5 separate regions of the Homo sapiens genome follow, and all the other regions are reported to be linked to region 1. Evidence: microRNA targets listed by miRTarBase, many of them from high-throughput screens and not tested one by one. Region 1 holds a microRNA gene; each other region holds the end of a gene's coding sequence.

What was found. The annotated mature microRNA hsa-miR-562 reads AAAGUAGCUGUACCAUUUGC and lies in region 1 at 1,649-1,668, shown strand. An mRNA with a match to its seed (bases 2 to 7 or 8) in the 3' UTR can be bound and repressed. Matches are read on the target gene's strand: a 7mer-m8 pairs with bases 2 to 8, a 7mer-A1 pairs with bases 2 to 7 and ends in A, and an 8mer does both.
Region 2: the mRNA of DCP1A is a reported target of hsa-miR-562. Seed matches in the 3' UTR shown: 8mer at 566-573.
Region 3: miRTarBase lists SPIC as a target of hsa-miR-562. The part of its 3' UTR that is shown has no 7-base or 8-base seed match.
Region 4: the mRNA of SEC14L6 is a reported target of hsa-miR-562. Seed matches in the 3' UTR shown: 7mer-m8 at 3,229-3,235 and 7mer-m8 at 2,208-2,214.
Region 5: miRTarBase lists ANGEL1 as a target of hsa-miR-562. Seed matches in the 3' UTR shown: 7mer-m8 at 858-864.

Annotation. Positions count from the first base shown.
Region 1 is chr2:232,171,065-232,175,213 of GRCh38, forward strand. MIR562 (microRNA 562) reads left to right here and starts at 1,589; the gene lies at 1,589-1,683. All of the region lies in intron 9 of DIS3L2 (DIS3 like 3'-5' exoribonuclease 2), which reads left to right.
Region 2 is chr3:53,284,096-53,288,095 of GRCh38, forward strand. It overlaps DCP1A (decapping mRNA 1A), which reads right to left. Exons shown (of 10, transcript NM_018403.7): 9 at 3,970-4,000; 10 at 1-3,565. The coding sequence ends at 3,485. The region is part of intron 1 of LOC107986087 (a long non-coding RNA gene); the gene reads left to right. Among named protein-coding and RNA genes, the nearest start is that of TKT, 30 kb to the left of the region's middle.
Region 3 is chr12:101,486,433-101,490,581 of GRCh38, forward strand. SPIC (Spi-C transcription factor) reads left to right here. Exons shown (of 6, transcript NM_152323.3): 6 at 1-565. The coding sequence ends at 339. Among named protein-coding and RNA genes, the nearest start is that of SPIC, 13 kb to the left of the region's middle.
Region 4 is chr22:30,521,273-30,525,421 of GRCh38, forward strand. It overlaps SEC14L6 (SEC14 like lipid binding 6), which reads right to left. Exons shown (of 12, transcript NM_001193336.4): 11 at 4,078-4,149; 12 at 1,527-3,837. The coding sequence ends at 3,725. Among named protein-coding and RNA genes, the nearest start is that of SEC14L4, 18 kb to the left of the region's middle.
Region 5 is chr14:76,785,431-76,789,579 of GRCh38, forward strand. ANGEL1 (angel homolog 1) reads right to left here. Exons shown (of 10, transcript NM_015305.4): 10 at 579-3,958. The coding sequence ends at 3,798. It overlaps VASH1-AS1 (VASH1 antisense RNA 1), which reads right to left and starts at 1,294. Exons shown (of 2, transcript NR_104184.1): 1 at 655-1,294.

The DNA.
Region 1 (4,149 bases):
GAAGTTAGTCCTAGTTCTCCCCAGGGCCTAGCTAGGTGATTTTAGGCAAACCAGTTAAATCTGGGGAAGTGGAGAGCCGTGAGCAATTTTATCTTTTGTGAAATGGATTTTTGACCAGATTAGGATTTTTCAAAACATGTTACTAGGTCATGAATAGGTGTCATGCAGAAAAAGGATCTGTGGGCAAGTATTTTTGGAAAACAGTGTGTTAATAGATTTCTTAGAGTTTCTTCTCATGGATTATCTTGTGGAACTAGTATTCCTTAGAATACATTTTGCAACTTTCTGAACTAGGTATTTCAAACCCCTCTAGCTCTAACAGAGCATGACTCTGTATTTGAAATGTCTTTTCTGAGTTATTTAGAGCTGTCTCATTCTTGGATTTGAAAGAAAATGGTATCCCATCAGTGATTGTCTGCCGCATTTATCTGACAAATAACTATCAACTGTGCCCCACCATGGACCACCCAGGAAAGATAATTACGCAGGAAATTCAAGGGTTGTGCTTTAAATCTCAGTTCTTCGATGGCCAAGGGAACCCCTTCTTCCCTTAGCTGGAGGGAAGCAAGATTAAATTGTTTGGCATCAAATGGGGAAGCTGTCATTGTCATTTGAAACTCCTGGCAGTAGTATTCCTTTCATGTAAATCCCAACTCACTGTGAAATTACAAGAAATGCATAGATAGTAACCAGGATGAATGGGCCCTAAAGTAGATACACAACTGGACCTTCTTAATTGTAAGTATTTAGTACTTCATCAGCCCATAAAATTCATGTTGATAAATAGCACCACTCTCAGAAAAGACAAATACTCAAAGATCAATAGATTTTTGTCTGAACCAGGAGGAAAAATGCCTACTGGCAAAAGACAATATTTGAATTTATTCCCTAGAAATATTTTTATAGCACTGTAGAAATATGAGTGCATGGGAAAGATAATTTCTACATCTTCTAAATAAAATCTGTTTGGAAATTATACTATAATGATATTTAAAAATTTCATTTTGTGGTATAGATGGTCTAAGATTTGGAATAAACTGGAGTATAGAGATAACTAAATGTCAGGGTGGCAAAGTCTGTTTTTTATATTGAGATATTCAAATACCACAAAATTAATCATTTTAAATTCAGTGGTTTCTCGTATATTGGTAGATTTGTTGAACCATCACCACTATCTAATTCCAGAACATTTTTGTCACCCCAAAAATCAATTCCATTAGCAGTCACTCCTCATTCCCTCTCCCCCCAGCTTCTCACAACTACTCATCAGTTTTCAGTCTCTGTGGATTTCCCTGTTCTGAACATTTCATATAAATGGAGTCATACAGCAAGTTGCCTTTGGTAGCTGACGTGGTTTACTTGACATAATGTTTTCAAGGTTCATCCATGTTGTTAAATATATCAGAACGTAATTCCATTTTATAGCTGAATAATATTCTGTTGTATGGATATTTCACATTTTGTTTATTCATTAGTTGATGGACATTTGGGTTGATTCCCCAGCTTGACTATTATGAATAATGCTGCTATGAATATTTGTGTACAGGTTTTGGTGTGGACATTCAGTTATTTTGGGTATACACCTAGGAGTGAAATTGCTAGGTCATATGGTCAGTCTACTTTTAGAGTAATTGTGAAACTGTTTTTCAAAGTAGCTGTACCATTTGCACTCCCTGTGGCAATGTATGAGGGTCTCAGTTGCTCCATATCCTAACACTTGTTATCTGTATTTGTGATTATAGCCATCATTGTAGGTGTGGGGTAGTATCTCATTGTGGTTTTGATTTGCATTTCTGTCATGACTAATGAGACTGAATGTATTTTGATGTGCTTATTGGTCATTTGTATATTTTCTTTGAAGAAAAATCTACTCAGATAGTATCTATTCAGATCCTTTGCCATTTTTAAAATGGATTGCCTTTCTATTGTTGAGCTATAAGTGTAGTTTCTGTATTCCAAACACTGGTCATTTATCAGATATATGATTTGCAGATATTTTCTCCTACTTGTGGGCTGGCTATCTTGCACTTTCTTGATGGTGTTCTTAGAAGCACAAAGTTTCAAAATTTGATGAAGACCCGTTTAGTCTGTTTTTTCTTTGGTTGCTTGTGTTTTTGGTGTCATATCTATAAAAACCATTGGCGAAGATCACAAAGAGTTAGACATATGTTTTCTTTTTGTTTGTTTGTTTTGAGATGGCGTCTCTGTTATCCAGGCTGGAGTGCAGTAGTGCGAGCTCAGCTGCAACCTCTGCCTCCCTGGTTCAAGCGATTCTCCTGCCTCAGCCTCCCAAGTAGCTGGGAGTGCAGGCACCCATCACCACACCCTGCCAATTTTTTTGTGTTTTTATAGAGATGGGGTTTTGCTATGCTGGGCAGGCTGGTCTCCAACTCCTGACCTCAAGTGATCCACCAGCCTCAGCCTCCCAAAGTGCTGGGATCATAGGCATGAGCCACCGTGCCTGGCCAACATAAGTTTTCTTCTATGAACTTTATACTGTTAGTTGTTATATTTATGATCCATTTTTAGTTAATCTTTGTAAATGGTGTGAGGTATGGGTCAAACTTCATTTTTTTGCTTGTGGATAACCAGTTGTTTCAGCACCATAAGAAAAACTTGTTGACAAGATGATTCTTTCTTCATGAAATTGTCTTGGCATTTCTTGTCAAAAATTATTTGACCATAAATGTATTGGTTTATTTCTGGACTCTCAATTCTGTTCCATTGATCTGTATATTTGTCTTTATGCCAGTACCACACTGTCTAAATTATTGTAACTTTGTAGTAAGTTTTGAAATTGAGAAGTGTGATTCTTCCAACTTTGCTTTTTTTTCTTTCAGATTTTTCTACTATTCTGGGTTCTTTGCATTGCCATATATATTTTAGGATCAGCTTGTCAATTTCAGGAGGCACTCAGGATTTTCATAAGAATTGCTCTGAGTCTGTAGATCAGTTTGGGGAGCATTTCCATCTTAACACTGTTAAGTCTTCCAACCTATGAACATGGGATGTCTGTCCATTAATTAGGTCTTTAATTTCTTTCAATGATGTTTTGTAGTTTTCAGTATACAAGGCTTCTTTGTTAAATTTAATCCTACATATTTATTCTTTTTGATGCTGTTGTAAATGAAATTGTTTTCTTAATTTCATTTCCAAATTATTTATTGCTAATGTTTAGAAATACATTTTATATTTATATATATATCTGGTATCCTGCAACCTTACAAAAATCATTTGTTGGCCGGGCATGGTGGCTCATGCCTGTAATCTCAGCACTTTGGGAGGCCAAGGCTGGTGGATCACTTGAGATCAGGAGTTTGAGACCAGCCTGGGTAACATAGTGAAACCCCGTCTCTATTAAAAATACAAAAATTAGCCAGGCTTGGTGGCAGGTGCCTGTAATCCCAGCTACTCAGGAGGCTGAGGCAGGAGAATCGCTTGAACCTGGGAGGTGGAGGCAGCAGTGAGCAGAGATCACGCCACTGCACTCCAGCCAGGGTAACAGAGTGAGACTCCACCTCAAAAAAAAAAAAAAAAAAAAAAAATTGTTAGCTCTGTTTTTCGTGGATACCATGGAATTTCCTGTATTTAGAAGTTCATGTCATCTGCAAATAGGGAAGTTTTACCTCTTCCTTTCTAATTTAGATGCCTTTTATTTCCTTTTGTTATCCAGTTACTCAAGCTAGGACCTTCTGTACAGTGTTGAATAGAATTAATGGAAGTGTGCCTCTCTTGTCCTGATCTTGAGGAAGGAAAGCATTCAGTCATTCAGTTTTTTTTTTGTTTTTTTGTTTTGAGACAGCGTCTTGCTCTGTTGCCAGGCTGGAGTGCAGTGGTACAGTCACAACTCACAATTCCAGGCTCAAGTGATCCTCCCAGCTCAGCCTCTTACGTAGCTGGGACAACAGGGCGTGCCACCAAACCCAGCTAATTTTTGTATTTTTTGTGGAGATAGGGTTTTGCTGTGTTGCCCGGGCTGCTCTTGAACTCTTAGGCTCAAGTGATCTGCCCGCCCCGGCCTCCCAAAGTGCTGGGATTACAGATATGAGCTAAGCACTCAGCCCAGTCTTTCAATATTAATTGTAATGTAAGCTTTGGGGGTTTTGTAGATGCTCTCTATCAGCTGAAAGCTTTTCCTTCTAGTCCTGA
Region 2 (4,000 bases), not on the chromosome of region 1:
CTCTGCAGCAAACGTGCAGCCAGGATGCAGGATGCGCACCCTAGGATTCCTCAGTTCTCCTCACTCACACGGGCTGAGCCCACTCGTGCCTGTGCCACCTCTCATTCCTCTCAGAGTTACAGTATGATGGCTGATTTTGTTTTTTGAGCAGTTAGGCACCTTCAATTTCATGTTGCATTATTAGTAATACAATGGCAGTTAGGGCCTCTACTATGGAAATGAGAAAATTTCAAACTACATTCTTTGGGGGAGGAGAGTAATAAAGCTGCATGGTTTAAAAATTTACCTAGTAGTGGATTTGATAGGGTTTATATAATTTCTACAAGAAAACATAAGCCAGGAAAAGGACAAATGCTTGACATGCAAAATCTGGTTAGACATATACTAAACTAAGCCTGTGTGTCCCCCTGTAGAGAGGGGCCCAGCGTGACTTTTTTTTTTTTTTTTTTTTTTTTTTTTTTGAGGTGGAGTCTCACTGTCGCCCAGGCTAGAGTGCAGTGGTGTGATCTTGGCTCACTGCAACCTCTGCCTCCCGGGTTCAAGTGATTCTCCTGCCTCAGCCTCCTAAGTAGCTGGGAGTATAGGCGCGTGCCACCACGCCCGGCTAATTTTTGTATTTTTAGTAGAGATGGGGTTTCACCATGTTGGTCAGGCTGGGACTTGGGTTCTTAATAAAATACCACTCTCTGTGATGGCTACATCTAAGCCTTTGAAGGTGAGCTGTGGACATACCACATGTGGACAGCATGAAATGCTTCTTCTGACACTGAGAGTCACTTGAAAAACTTGAATTCAAAGTCAAGCAGGCCAAATCTCACACCTCATGAATCCCAGGAGGTACACAATGAAGAAGAGCTTCTGCCTTAAAGGAACAAGGCTGTCTGGGAGGCCTGAGAGTCCATTAAAAGACACCGCATTAACTACAACAAAAAGAAGAGCAGCACCACCCACCAGTGGTGCCCCAGACACACCTCTCCTCCAAGCTCTGGGCTGCTCCTCTTGGAGTCTACACTTAGACCCTGGGGGTGGGGGTGGGCACACAAATGGACAGAGTGGTCTAAATGCAGGTCTCCTGGGGTTCTGCGAAATCTAGCCAGAAGCATCTCCATCTCGGTGTCCATTTCGATCCAACTAAGCTTCCAGTAAAGACACTGCAGCAATGTAAACATGCAACCTAAGCTAGCATGAGGTTCTAGATAGTAAGCCTGAACTAGGAATAAGGCAACTGAACTGTGACTTTCGGGCCAGGGTCATCCAGCTGCAATTATCCAGGCTTGGCCTGGCTTCTCTAGGGATTCATTCTGGCCTGAACTTCCTGGTAATCATGACATGAACTTCTGGCTTCTGAATTTTAAGTAAATACTTTGAATATATAAATTTGGGAGGTGAAACAGGTTTACCCTTTTCAAGTCTCCATGACTTGGGCACTTAAGTTTACTTTCACACTAAGGAAGCCTTATCATAGATGCTCTTTACTGTCTATCATATCCATTCCTAGCATTAAAGGTGAAAATTAGTATGATCACAGACTCTCTTTAGGATATTCTCTCTTAACTCTCTCATAATATTACATACTCAAAAGCATAATTTCGATTCAAGAATCCCTTGATTCGTCTGTTCACCGAAGCCCACTGAGACTACACTTGAGGTGCAATCACACCTACTGGTGCGTCCACTTTATGGAAGTCACGTGGCTCCCTGGACACCATCTCCCGGTGTCAGCAACACTCTGTATCCCACTATAGCTTTCTCGTTCCCAGATGATGCATAAGGAATTCATTTTTGGTTGCTTAATTTACATACTATCTGTGAAAACAAACTATTCACAATTGAGCATGAAAACTTATAAGCTTCCCTGAATTCTGCACAATTCACACATAATTAGGTAGACAGCAATAGAAGACACTAAAATGAGAAGCAGAAACCCTGTCCAGGAAGCATGTTTAGATCAACAAAAGCCAATCATTCTTTATGCTAAAAACTAAGACCAAACTAAAACAAGTATGTAATTCACAAGTAATTTTCTAAAATTTTAGCTAGAAAAAAATAATCTATGGACTTATGATTGAGTTACCATTAAAGCTTAAATGATTGTTCCTAAGGAACCATCATATCTGTCAGCATTATTCACAGCTAATCCTTATGCTAGCTGGTTGAGCCAATTGGGTTTTTACCCCATCATTAAATAGTGCTCAGAAAAGTAAGCAGTGCATCTTAATTGGTTAAATACTACAAAATGACCTGTATCATAGAAACGAAGACACTTTCATTCAAAGAATATCTTAAAATTACTATTGCTGAAATAAATCAAAATCTACATTAAAATATTACTAAACACCATTACATGCCATAAAAGAATAAATAGAAATCATGGCAGATCAATAGCAGCATAACAAAGCTTCTTTACATATTTTCACACTTTGGGCCGGGAAAGTACTCACAGCCTAGGAATACATTGGTAGAGTTCGGAATCACATTTTCTTTTAACTCCATAATTCTACAACAAAATAAGGGCAGTGTGAATAACAGCTCCCTTTTCTGCATAGCTTTAAAACTATTCTCAGTACACTCAAGGAAAGGAACCAGAATGGCTTTGTCAGATTGGTCCACTGGTCCTTTTGTCAAAGTGTTAAGGAAAACAATCAACAATGACAGAAAAGGAAAATAAGGCTGTGCTTCACACACAAACTTAGCATTTTCAGAACCAATGGAGAGTTTAACCTAAAATGAAGATTTGATAGGATGTGGGCATTCCCAGCCCCAGCCTTTCCTTCAAAGGTATGACATGCCTGTGTCCACACCACCAGAGCCTGACAGTGCCCTATTCAAATGGTAATGCTGCACTGGGGGCCTGCTGCAGGGCAGGACTGGGGCACTTAAAAACAAAATGCTATTAAGAAATTTCACAACTTTTAAGGCCCAAATGGGGCATTCATATAAAATATACTTCACTTGAGGAAATAATTCCTAATTTGCCGGCTTAAATTCTGGTCCTAAAAACTAGAAGCTACTTTGCAGAGCTGCCTTCTACTCTGTTCAAAACTTGACTTGTCAGCCCAAAGCCCGTTTCTATGGGGTAGGCTGGGGGAAGCGGTGGGGGCCGGGCTGAACTTCTGCTGTGAGGCTGGTGACTACTCCTCTGTAAGTCCTTGAAAGTGAAAGCAAGCTGAGAATCTGACTCCTTATTCCACAGCCTTGCTCCTAGCTGATGAAAACACCCACATAACTTAACACAATGATCGCTCTCTTTTTTTTTTTTTTTTTTTTTTTTTTTGTCAAAACAAGGATCTGCTGGTGATGCTTCACAGTGAAACCTCCATTATCACTGAGAATGTCACTTGGAAAACATTCTTAAGAAATGAGTCTCTTTCTCATAGGCTCAATTTCAGGATTCTCAAACTCAATGTTCTGCTCAGAAGTTTCCATGATGAAGCCTATTTGTCTCTGAGGCTGGGGCTCTGCCTTTAGACTTATTCTGCTCCAGTCATAGGTTGTGGTTGTCTTTGTTCTTGGTCAGAACCTGCAAGTAGACTTCATGAAGTGTACTGAGGAAGCTGGAATCATTCTAGAAGAGATGGTAAAGGTTAAGGATACGAATGCCACATTTACCTCATCAGATTTTACTTCCTTGGTAACAGCTTAGGAAAAAAATTGTATAAATGATTTGTATAACTGATAATCCCACCACCCAGAGACAATCATGATTAATATTTTGAGTTCATGCAGATATTTCTCCACCAGGACTGTATGCTTAAAAAAAGAGAAACAGTACTCCCAGCTAGTCTGTTTTTGTTTTTTTTTTGCCTGCCTTGGCCTCCCATAGTGCTGGGATTACAGGTGTGAGCCACTTTGCCTGGCCTCCAGCTAGTCTTTTGAATTTACTTTATGAACTGATTCTGTAAGAGGAATTTATAAAATTTCTTTCATTAAATAATGAAAAATCAAAGATAAAATTGGTATCCTACATACCTTTATTAGATGTATTAATGTATCCTGGAGC
Region 3 (4,149 bases), not on the chromosome of region 1:
AAAGGCATCTTTCAGTTTGTATCAAAAAACAAAGAAAAACTTGCCGAGCTTTGGGGGAAAAGAAAAGGCAACAGGAAGACCATGACTTACCAGAAAATGGCCAGGGCACTCAGAAATTACGGAAGAAGTGGGGAAATTACCAAAATCCGGAGGAAGCTGACTTACCAGTTCAGTGAGGCCATTCTCCAAAGACTCTCTCCATCCTATTTCCTGGGGAAAGAGATCTTCTATTCACAGTGTGTTCAACCTGATCAAGAATATCTCAGTTTAAATAACTGGAATGCAAATTATAATTATACATATGCCAATTACCATGAGCTAAATCACCATGATTGCTAAATATACTTTCATATTTCATGGTTTACTGGCATCGGAAATCTCTACAAGTTTTAATGATTTCTCCCTCCCTCTCTTTTTTTCCTCCTCTGAAGAAATTTAGGATTTTTCTCTTAAAGCAAATACTAAAGAGGAAAAAAAATTAACTTTATTGTTGCTTTTATCAAAGAGTATGTAATCTATACTAACTTGTTGGGAAATTCTGCCAATGAACAACTTTTTTATAATACTTTGTGAAGATTCAATGAACAACTTTATTGTTTCAAATGATCAAGCCCATTTGAAAGTATAGACTAAGGTCCTTGCTCTGCTCTTACTGTTCTCTCTCTATTAAAATTTTTATTTTTTTATTTTATTATTTTTTAAAGATGTCTCAGCCAAGATAATTTTTTATTTTTATGGATTTAGGAGTACAAGTGCAGTTTTGTTGCTTTGATATATTGCATAGTGGTGAAATATGCATCCTCATCACCAGAATAGTGAACACTGTACCCAATAGGTAGGATTTCATCCCTCATCCCCCTGGCATCCTCCCACCTTTCAGAGCCTCCAGTGTCCATTACTCCATTCTGTATGACCATTGCTAAGCTCCCAACTATACCCATTTTATTTTATTTTAAAAATTGTTTTCTTTTGCTGCATACTTCAATGGATGCAAAGTCTTTTTCTTTTTTCTTTTTTTCTTTTCTTTTCACAGACGATGACTTCTTTTTTTGTTTGTTTGTTTGTTTTTGGCTGCTAACTCCCAAGCACAACACTGACAGTGACTTATATTTTTAATTTTTTTTTTTTTTTTTTTTTTTGAGACGGAGTCTCGCTCTGTCGCCCAGGCTGGAGTGCTGTGGCGCAATCTCGGCTCAGTGCAAGCTCCGCCTCCTGGGTTCATGCCATTCTCCTGCCTCAGCCTCCCGAGTAGCTGGGAGTACAGGTGCCCGCCACCACGCCCGGCTGATTTTTTTGTATTTTTAGTAGAGACGGGGTTTCACTGTGTTAACCAGGATGGTCTCGATCTCCTGACCTCATGATCCGCCCGCCTCGGCCTCCCAAAGTGCTGGGATTACAGGCGTGAGTCACCGCGCCCGGCTATTTTTAATTTTTTTAAGAGGCAAAGCCTACCTCTGAAGCTCTCTCTTTTTTTCTTTTCACACTTCAATAAGCTGGTTTAAATTCTTGCTATTCTCTATGCAACCACCTTCTTCTAGATTAACAGTGCCAGTACAGATGATTTGATTTATATATTGATTTCAGCATTTTCTTGTCATGTACTCAGGTGAGAAAATTCACACTTTTATATGATGGCTTTACAAAAAAATTTTGTAAATGACTGCATATGATAAAGCCTTTGTGCCAAAATGGGTTCATAGCTTTAAAAACATCACTAGAAATGTCTGTTCAGCTTCCTTACACATTTTTTTATTTCCTTCTCTTTTGATCTTACCCATTTTTACAACTTAAAGCTTTTTTTTTTTTTTTTTTTTTGAGACAGGGTCTCACTCTGTCACCTATGCTCAGGTGCAGTGACACAAACATGGATGAAGCCCAGCTAATTTTTTTTTTTTTTTTTTGTAGAGACTGTTTTGCCATGTTGCCCAGGCTGGTCTCTAACTCCTGGGCTCAGGTGATCTGCCCACCTTGGCCTTCAGAAGTGCTAGGATTACAGGTGTGAGCCACCGAGCTGGCCCCAAAACTTTTTTAATGTTTAAGTTTTACCACTGTACTAAGGAGGAGTTACCCATTTTTTTAATTGCCTTTTTTCTTCCTTCTTATTAGGGAGGGGTAAGGAAGAAGACTTTGTCAGCAGAAAGCAGGTCTTAATTGCTTTTTTGTTTGTTTGTTTTGTTGCTATTGAGTTGTTTGAGTTCCTTATATGTATTGGATATTAAACCCTTGTCAGATGTCTGGCTTGCAAATGTTTTCTCCCATTCCATAGGCTGTCTCTTTACTCTGGTGATTATTTCCTTTGCTGTGCAGAAGCTTTTTAGTTTGTTTGTTTTAGCTACACGTCATGAACTAAGAAGCTTTTTAGTTTGATGTGATACCATTTGTCTATATTTAATTTTGTTGTCCATGCTTTCGGGATCAAATCCAAAATATCACTACCCACACCAATGTCTTATATGTTTCCCCTATGTTTTCTTTCTTTCTTTTCTTTCTTTCTCTCTCTCTCTTTCTTTCTTTCTTCTTGTAATCATTAGAGAAATGCAAATTAAAACCACAATAAGATATAATCTCTCACCTGTCACAACGTCTTAAAATGTTTATTATTATGTTTTTAATCATCCTGTACTTTATTTCAAAACAATGTTTTCAAATGAAGACACAAAAGATAAGTGTTGGTAAGGATGTAGAGCAAAGGAAACACTTGTACACTGTTGGTGGAAATGTAAATTGGTGTAGCCATTATGGAAAATGGTATGGAAATTCCACCCCCCCCCGAAAAAAAACTAAAAATAGAATTATATGATCTAGAAATCCCACTTCAGTGTATTAATGCAAAAGACTCGAAATCAGTTTGTGGAAGGGATATCTGCATTCCTATGTTCATTGCAACACTACGCACAATAGCCAAGTTAGGGAATCAATCTCTGTCTATCAACAGATGAATGGATTAAAAAAATGTATTGCATATACATGATGGAATACTATTCAGCCTTTAAAAAGAAGGACATTCTGGCCAGGTGCAATGGCTCACACCTGTAATTCCAACACTTTAGGAGATCAAGGCAGGCAGATCACTTGAAGTCAGGAGTTTGAAACCAGCCTGGCCAACATGGTGAAACCCCATCTCTACTAAAAATACAACAATTAGCTGGGTGTGATGATGCATGCCTGTAATCTCAGCTACTTGGGAGGCTGAGGCAGGAGAATGGCTTGAACCTTGGAGGCAGAGGTTTCAGTGAGCTGAGATGGCACTACTGCACTCCAGCCTGGGCGACAGAGTGAGACTCCATCTCAAAAAAAAAAAGGAAGGAAATCCTGAAATTTGTGACAACATTGATGAAATTGGAGAACATTATGCTAAGTGAAATAAGTCAGGGCTAGAAAGACAAATACCACATGTTCTCATTTATATGTGGAGTTAAAACAATGAACTTATAGAAGTGGAGAGTAGAATTGTGGTGACAGAAGCTGGAGGAGGGGGAGATGGGGAGGTGATGAGCAAAGGGTATACAATTTCAAACAGGGAGAATATGTTTTCTCTTTTTGTGCATTCTATTGCACAGCATGGTGAATATAGTTAATAGTAGAGTGCTGTACATTTCAAATTGCTAAGTAAACTTCAAATGTTCTTACCTCAAAGAAAGTTAAGTATTTGAGGTGATGGGTATGTTAACTAGCTTGACTGAATTATTTCATATGGCGTTCACAAATCATAACATCATTTTGTACCCCATAAATTTTTTCCCCACACAACTCTCTCTTTACAGAACCCATAAATCTATACAATTATAAATAGTCAATTTACAATAAAAAAGAAAAAAACTTTAGTGGGTATCTTGAGTCTGTATTTTCTCTGCACTTCCACTCATGATCTGTAACCATGTGGCATTCAACAGATGACAGCCTAAGGAAAATGCCACTTTCCTTAATGATAATAAAAATCTAAAGCTTACACCTCCTACAAATCCCCTTCGTGGTTGACGTTTTTCTTAGGTAGATCCAGGTGCTAATATTTCTTGCTATCCTGCCACGAAGCCATAGGGAGGTGCTGTTGCCCTGGTATCTATCTGGCACATGGTCTCTTCCCTTGAACTAGCCCAGTGGAGACAGGCTAGAACAGTTAGAGAAGGAAAATAAAAAGACTTTATAAAG
Region 4 (4,149 bases), not on the chromosome of region 1:
GGCATAAGGGAGTCTCTGAGGTCGACATGCAAGAGACCAGGGGCAGGGCTGGCCCACACTGCAGGTGGAGCTGGCAGCCAGATGGGAGGAGATGCAGGGAGGGCATTAGGCCCAGAGTGCACCTGGAGATCAGAACTGGGGGCACCTAACAGGGGCCTGTAGGGCAGCCAGGACAAGCACAGGAAGATGGGACCAAGATGCATGGAGAAAGCTTGTGGGACAGTGCAGCGTGGCTCCCTGGTGGGCTCCAACACTAGTTATCAGCTCCCAATAGCAGCTGCCTTCCCCTGGAGGCTTGCTGGTGCCTGCGGAATCTCCTTTATCCTATAGCAACCACTCTATGAGGCAGACGCTATCTCACCCATTTGCCAATGAGGAGATGGAGGCTCAGAGAGGTCTGATCACTGGCCAAAGCCAGGCAGTGAGTGCTAGAAACAGCACTTGAACTCGAGCCTGTCTCATCTCACACACCATGCCTGCCTTTTCTTTTTCTTTCTCTTTCTTTTTCTTTCTTTTCTTTCTTTCTTCCTTTCCTCCCTTCCTTCTTTCTTTCCTTCTTTCTCTTTTCTTTCCTTTTTCTTTCTTTCCTTCCTTCTTTTTCTTTTCCTTTCTTTCTCTCTTTCTTTCTCTCTCTCTCTCCCTCCCTCTCCTCCTCCTCCTTCTTTTTCTTCCTCTTCTCCTCCTCCTCCTTCTTCTTCCTTTTCTTTCCCTTCCTTCTTTCCTTTCCTTCCTTCTTCCTTTCTCCCCTTCTTCCCCTTCCCCTTTCCTTTCCTTTTTCTTTCTTTTTACAGAGACAGAGAACTCCTGGGCTCAAGTGATCCTCCCACCTCAACCTCCCAGAGAGCTGAAATTACAGGTGTGAGCCACTATGCCCAGCCGACCATGCCTTTTTCATGTTCATGAAAAGATGCTCAGCACTACTAGTCATTGAAGCAATGTAAATTAAAACCACATTGGCCGGGCATGGTGGCTCATGCCTGTAATCCCAGCACTTTGGGAGGCTGAGGTGGGTGGATCCCCTGAGGTCAGGAGTTCAAGCTCAGCCTGGCCAACATGGTGAAACCCTGTCTCTATTAAAAATACAAAAATTAGCCGGTGTGGTGGTGTGCACCTGTAATCCCAGCTACTTGGGAGGCTGAGGCAGGAGAATTGTTTGAACCCGGGAGGTGGAGGTTACAGTGAGCCAAGATCATGCCATTGCACTCTAGCCTGGGCAACAAGAGTGAAACTCCATCTCAAAAAAATAAAATAAAATAAATAAATAAATAAATAAAAACCACATTAACCACAGGCCTATTCGAATAGTTAATATCAGGATAACTAACAGCACCAGGCAAGGATGGGAAGCAACTGGGATGCTTACATGCTGCTTTTGGGAAAATGGTGCAACTTCTGTGCAAAACACGTTGTCCGTTTCCCGTGACATTAAATGTACCCTTCCCATAGGTCCCAGCAGGAATTCTCCTCCTGGGTATTGATACCCTGGAGAAGTGAAAATTTAGGATCACAAAAAACCTGTACACGAATGCTTACAACAGCTTTATTCATAATCGCCCCCAAACTGGAAGCGACTCAACCAGCCTTTAACAGGGGAAGGGATAAACACAGTGTGGTCCATCCATACAGTGGTATATTACTCAGCAACGAAAAGCAACTAAATATTAACACATGCAACAAAGTGAATGAATCTCAGAGGCATTATGCTGACTAAAGAAAGCCAGAATCAAAAGGCTAAATATTGCACGATTCCATTTATATGACACTCTGGAAAAAATCAAAAGTGTAGGGATGAAGAACAGATCAGTGGCTGTCAGGGGAGGGGCTGAGGGAGAGCAAGGGCTGCTGAATGCCCGTGTTTCCATTTTTGGACAGGATTCCTGTAAAGTAGGCAATTAGGGAAGAACTTTGGCTGTCATTTGGGGCTGCCACATTGAGAACAAGCTGGGACAACATGTGAGTGACAGGATCCTGGGCAGAATCTCAGCTGACAGCATAGCCAGACCCAAAGAGGCCTGATCGCAGGACAGCACTCTAGTAGGACTGTGGGCTGACACCGACCTAGTGTCCCACTGTGAGGCTCAGTCTGAATTTTTTTTTTTTAAGACAGGGTCTTGCTCTGTTTCCCAGGCTGGAGTGCAGTGGTGCAATCTCAACTCACTGCAACCTCCGCCTCCTGGGTTCCACAGATTCTCCCACCTCAGCCTCCCAAGTAGCTGGGACTGCAGGCACTCGCCGCCACCACACCCAACTAATTTGTGTATGTTTCGTAGAGACGGGGTTTCGCCATGTTGTCCAGGCTGGTCTCAAACTCCTGGCCTCGAGCAATCCACATGCCTCAGCCTCCCAAAGTGCTGGGATTACAGGTGTGAGCCACTGCACCTGGCCAGTTTGAAATCTTAATCAGGAGATTGGATGAAGATCCAGAGCTCAAGCAGATTCTCAGATGCTATAACAGTGGGAGGGAACGTGTATGTGGAAGACAGAATAGAGAGTTTAAAATTCTTTCTAGATGGGAAACTGTGAGGTTGGATTTCCATTCAGAGCAGCATTGCACAACTGCTTGTTAGGGAACTATTTGAACCATGTCTTTTATTTTCTGCATGCTTTAACATCTGAGGTTTTGCTAATCCTGGAGGGCCTGCCTCTCCTAGAGATACAGCAACTTGCCCACAAATGCACTTTTCGAATGCAAACCAACTGATATAAACCATATTCCAACTACCTCCTTTATCAGATTCTCACACTCCAGGCCACTATCCACCTGCTGTAATCACCCCAGGGCAAGATACCAGACAGCTAGTGACAGCCCTTATTCCACGGAGCCTGCTGAAATTATTCAAACTAGCAAATCTCAAGCCTGCTTACCCTGCCTCACCAGTTCCTTCCTGCAGAAACCATCATAAAAGTAAAGTTGCTTTGTCCAGAGTTTTTCTGTCTCATGTGCGTCATGTTCGGCCCTGATGCCTCCCTGGGGACCCCTCCTCTTCCCCCTATGGCACAGCGGCCCCTCCTCTTGGGAACTGTGAGTAATAAACTATCTTTTCAATGGTAATTATTTCCTGATCTGTCAGCTATACTATATTTCAAATTTCCTATTAATACTATTTTATTTTATTTTTTTGAGACAGAGTCTCACTCTGTCACCCAGACTGGAGTGCAGTGGCATGATTTCGGCTCACTGCAACCTCTGCCTACCAAGTTCAGGCGACTCTCCTGCCTCAGCCTCCCAAGTAGCTGGAATTACAAGCAGGCACCATCACACCTGGCTAATTTTTGTATTTTTAGTTGAGATGAGGGTTTCACCATGTTGGCCAGGCTGGTCTCGAACTCCTGACCTCAAATGATCTGCCCGCCTTGGCTTCCCAAAGTGCTGGGATTACAGGTATGAGCCACCATGCCTGGCCTAATACTATATTTTAGAAGAGTAACTTATTTCTTGGTATTGGTTGATAGAAAAAAGCCTGGGGTTTTTGCTGAGCTTGAGGTCACAGCAGGTCATAGTGGGGATGGAGTGTCTGTGTTGCTTTGCTGTGACCATCGGGCCACCACTAGGACACTGTCCCAGCCGTTCCTGAGGAGTGGGCCAGCTGTGATGCATAGGCTGTGACCTGCTGTTGTAGAATCCCTGTTCCTGAGAGGTTGAACAGGGTCTGGCCAGGGAAGGCTGTGAACTCATTGTGGATTCAGAGATCAAAGAGGAGGGTGTGGGGACCATGAGGTTCACCTAGAATTTCTCCATCTTCTCCATGAAGGTTTGGTCTGGGAGCAGTACCTCCACGGTGTAGCTGATGCGTTTAGAATGAACCAGGCTGTAGGTGTTGTAAAACCTCAGGACATCTGCAGTGAGGGACAGACATTCAGACAAGATGCCCCACCTGGGACTCTGACTTCCATGGTGGTAAATCTCTGCGTGGGTACCCAGACCAGGGAACCATTGCCACAATTGAGAGCCCAGAGCCAGCCTCACACTGTGCCCACCAGAACCAAGGGCCCTCACCTGGTAGGACCTGGATGCACATTGTAGCACCCTCCCCCTAGCCCCCAGCTCCAGGTAGAGCCATCCCTGCCAACTCTTACAGCTGCCGGCCTGGAGGCAGGTGAGAATCCCATCTTCAGGCACCATGTGGGCATTGTAGCGCTGGCTGGGCA
Region 5 (4,149 bases), not on the chromosome of region 1:
GGAGAGAAAAACAAAACAAAAAAAGCAGCAGCCTCCTGACTGGCCATTTCCCTTCTTGGTCTCCAGTTAAAAGCTGCCTCTGAGCTCCCCCAGCCCCAGGCCCCCACCACCAGCCTCTGCCTTCCAAGATAACCTGTCTTGCCTGATCCTGGAAAGGCTTGTGAGAAACTTGGGGTGGTAAGAAATAAACCAAAGGAGATTCTCAAATTCTATCTCTGGGATTTCTGTTTCCTCAGGTGTAAAGGTAGAATCTGAACACCACCTAAACTGCCACCACACAGTGCCACTGTCTTTGCTAGCTGACGTGGAAGTACTGTGCAAACTTAACAGAAGTGCTGTGGAGATGCTAACTGACTGAGGCAACTAGGAGGAACCCTCCCTGCCAGGAAGAGGTTCTTGGGGATATACCTCAAAGCTTAGGGCTTTCAAATACTTCCTAGCCAATGGGCCCAACTGTCCAGCCTGGCTGGGGTAACGATCTACTCCCAACTCCTACCAATAATTCTCTGGAATTCTTAGCACCTTTTTCTTGCCAAAGCCCAAACAAAGCAATTTCAGATCTGAAAATTCTTCACAAGTAGAAGTGATTATTAACTTTAATTTCTATTTCACCAAGGAATGTGAACTGAAATACAGAGAGGTTAAGTAACTTACCTACAGTCACCAGCTGAACAGGCCAAGAGGACAAATGATGTTTCTAATTCCTAGCTGAGTTTTCTTTCTTTTCTTTTCTTTTCTTTTTTTTTTTTTGAGATGGAGTTTCACTCTTGTTGTCCAGGCTGGAGTGCAATGGCATGATCTCGGCTCACCACAACCTCCGCTTCCCAGGTTCAAGCAATTCTCCTGCCTCAGCCTCCAAGTAGCTGGGATTACAGGCATGCGCCATCACGCCCGGCTAATTTTGTATTTTTAGTAGAGACGGGATTTCTTCATGTTGGTCAGGCTGGTCTGGAACTCTCGACCTCAGGTGATCCACCCGCCTCAGCCTCCCAAAGTGCTGGGATTACAGGTGTGAGCCACCGCACCCGGCCGCTAAGTTTTCTTTTTACTAAATCAATTGAGGGGATCGCAACCCAGGTAGTGCAATGGAAGCAACCAAGTGGCTTTAAATCAATCAGATTCTCAGAGACTGATTCAGAGGCCTGGTGTGGGTTCTGGGAACCTGTTCAGGTAAGACAGAAAACCAGATCTGGTTTCAGGGCTCCCAGTGGGCATGTGGGCTTGGCTGGTCTTACTACATAGGGAGGTTGGAAGACAAAAGCACCAACAGAGGTAGGCCTAGGAAGGAAGAGACATTTTTCCAGCGACAGATGGCCCACTGCTCAGCCCTGGCTCCAGAATGCAAAAGAGATCAGAAATAGATGCTCAGCAAGAGGCATGTGCCACCCGCATCATGTCTCATGCAGCTGCCATAGCTTTAATCAGGAAAACACACATCTTATCCCACTTTGCACAGACCCTCCTGAAGTGCAGAAGATACTAGGAGGAGGCATGGGGGGAGCAGATGGAGGAAGAATGAAAAGCAGTCCAAAGAATCATTCTCTCACTTGGGAAGGACAGAAGAAAGCTGTACCCCAGCAGTGTCAAGGCAGGAGGCTTCACTCAAGCCCTGTTCCTCCCAGGCCTCACAGCAGTGGGAATTTACCTCAGCTAATAGAGGGAGATCTTACAACACATTTCTCAATCTAGATTCATGTCTTGAGACCCCACCCCAAGATCAAAAGCTCCTTAGTCTCTTCCTCTGCCCACCTCATTCTTCAGGCCCTCTCTCAAGGACCTAATCCCTTCAGGATCCTAATAAAATGAACAACATTGGGGGGAAAAAAGGTAAACCTTTATTTGGAAAAAGAGTTTAAATAACAATTTAAAACCCCATTTCACTTTCAAAACAGAAACAAGAAAGCAAGGAAAAGATAATCTATCAAGCATCTGCCCTCTGCTGTGGTTAGCCATTTTAAAGCTGCATTTCCCAGCAGAAGAGAACAGTGATGGGCCCTAGTCCTAGGAACCCACAGGGCACTGTCTTGAGACCCTTTTAGGCAGTGTCCAGGGAACAGACAGACAGAATGAATGGTGGGGTGTAGACAGACCTGGGGCTCAGACAGGCACATGCCCAGTACCCAGGAAACAAAGTTTGAAAATATATACACATAGAAAAATAAATTCCCTAGAACCTAGGCATGGAAAGCTTCTAACCATGAATGCAGCAGCACAATGCAAACTGGGTCTTTGGCTTTCAAAAAAAGGAAAGAACCTTAACCCCTGGCTTACTGTCCCGAACTCAAGTCTCTTGACCACTGTCTTCAGTCCCACTTTGGAGGTCGAGTGAGGCAAGAGCAAGTCAAATCTACCAGGGCCAGCAGCCACTCTGACTTAGGGAGATGTGTGGAGGGGCTGGCCCAGGATCTCCCAAGGCCACACCCCAGCAATGAAAGATTAAGGCATGCAGGTGACACAGTGTGGACTAAGGAGTCCCCTGAATAAGCCAGGGTACCCTTCTGTTAGGGGAGGGAAAGCAGACGCAACAAGCAGCTGAGGCCTTGCTGGACAGAGCCAATCCGCAAGTACTGCCACTTCAAATTCTTGGACCAGTTTTGTCCAAGGCCACCTTTCTGCTGAGGCAGTTTGGCCTGAGCTAAATACCAGGGTTTTCTAGAAAGGAAATGGAAGGGAAGCGGGAGATGGGAGATAGCAGAAAGTAAAAAGTGGTGGAAGGAGAGGAACAGAAAATTGCTTCTTAGGAGTGGAGAGGAAAGAGAATCAGCTTAGGTCTTCAGTCCCAGCTGAGGCAGCTGAAGAGTCTACCTGCTCCTTCCCCTACTGGAACTCCTACCCTTGCCCCAGTTCTGCAGGCTGCAGAGTCCAGTGAAACAAGAGTTTCCTGAAGACTCTTTCTCCTCCTAATCCTTAAATAGTTTTAAACCTCATACCACTACCCTAGCCCAATGAACCCCACATAAGGGTTCAAACTTCCGCCTCCCTCAGGGAAGCCTGGGGAAAGGGATGGCCCTTGTGAAATTACACCAGGTCTGTGGGGAGCTCTGGGTTGGAGGCACAGGGCCAGCTGGGACAGGTAGCGCATCCCCCAAAATTTGCCACTCCAGGATGTGGGCCCCATTTGTTCCCAGAGCCCAGACGCCGGGCCTGCCCTGGTTGGCAGGATGAATGCCTAATGAAACACAGAGGCTAAAAGGAGAGATGGGGCCATGCCCTGCTGCTGCCTGCTCATACATAGGTACTTGGGTAGACTCTGAACCTGCCCCAGGCCTACAGCCCCAACATGAAAAGTGGACTGGTCAGAGGCAGGCATGGCTGTGCAGAAGTCTCACCCCAAGAGGACACATACATGATATGCATATCTCACATATGCATGCCTGGCAAGAGGGCTGGGCCCAGAAGTCCTGAAGGCAGGGAAAAGGTCAGGTCAGAAGGTACATCAAGAAACGGCCTGAAAGCAAATAACCAATGAAATCAAGAACTCCCATAACCCTGGTAATTAAAAATCAAGGGGGAGCGCTGGATACATGGAAGGAAGGGGGAGCCCCCCTTCTGCCTCTCCCAGGGCCACTGAGTGTGTGGCACAGGATTAGGAAGAGGCTGGGGTGGGGCAAGGACCACAGGCAGAGAACGCAGCCAGGCCTGGAGAAAGTCTAACCGTGGGAAAAAGGGAACGAGGAGGGGGAAGGGAGGGGATGTAAGTTTCTTGGATCTAAGTTTCTAGATGCATGGGATTTTTCCACAGTCTCTGATCCAGTGAGCTCTTCTGGAAGAGAAGCTCTCTTCCCCTGGGAGCCCTGTCATGGGGCGGTGACTTCCATCCCGAAGCTGGCTAGCAGGCAGAGGTGGTCTGAAGAGCAGAAGGGGTTGGGTAAGCCATTGGCAGCCCAGAGTATCTCTTCAGAGAGAAGGGAGAGACGACCCAGGAGCTTGAGAGTTCCATCTCGATACAGCCTGTGATCTGGGGCACAAAGCAGAAGCCAATGGGTAAAAGCAGCCGCAGCCACACTGCATGGGCAGGCAGTGGCAGAGTCCTTTGGGAACGCCTTCTGCAGGCTGCATCCCCTTGGCTGCCCACTGCCCCTCACCTCCTCTTGCAGCATCTGGCTGAGGAGGCCCCATTTTCTCAGAGATACTCCATAATATCATCAA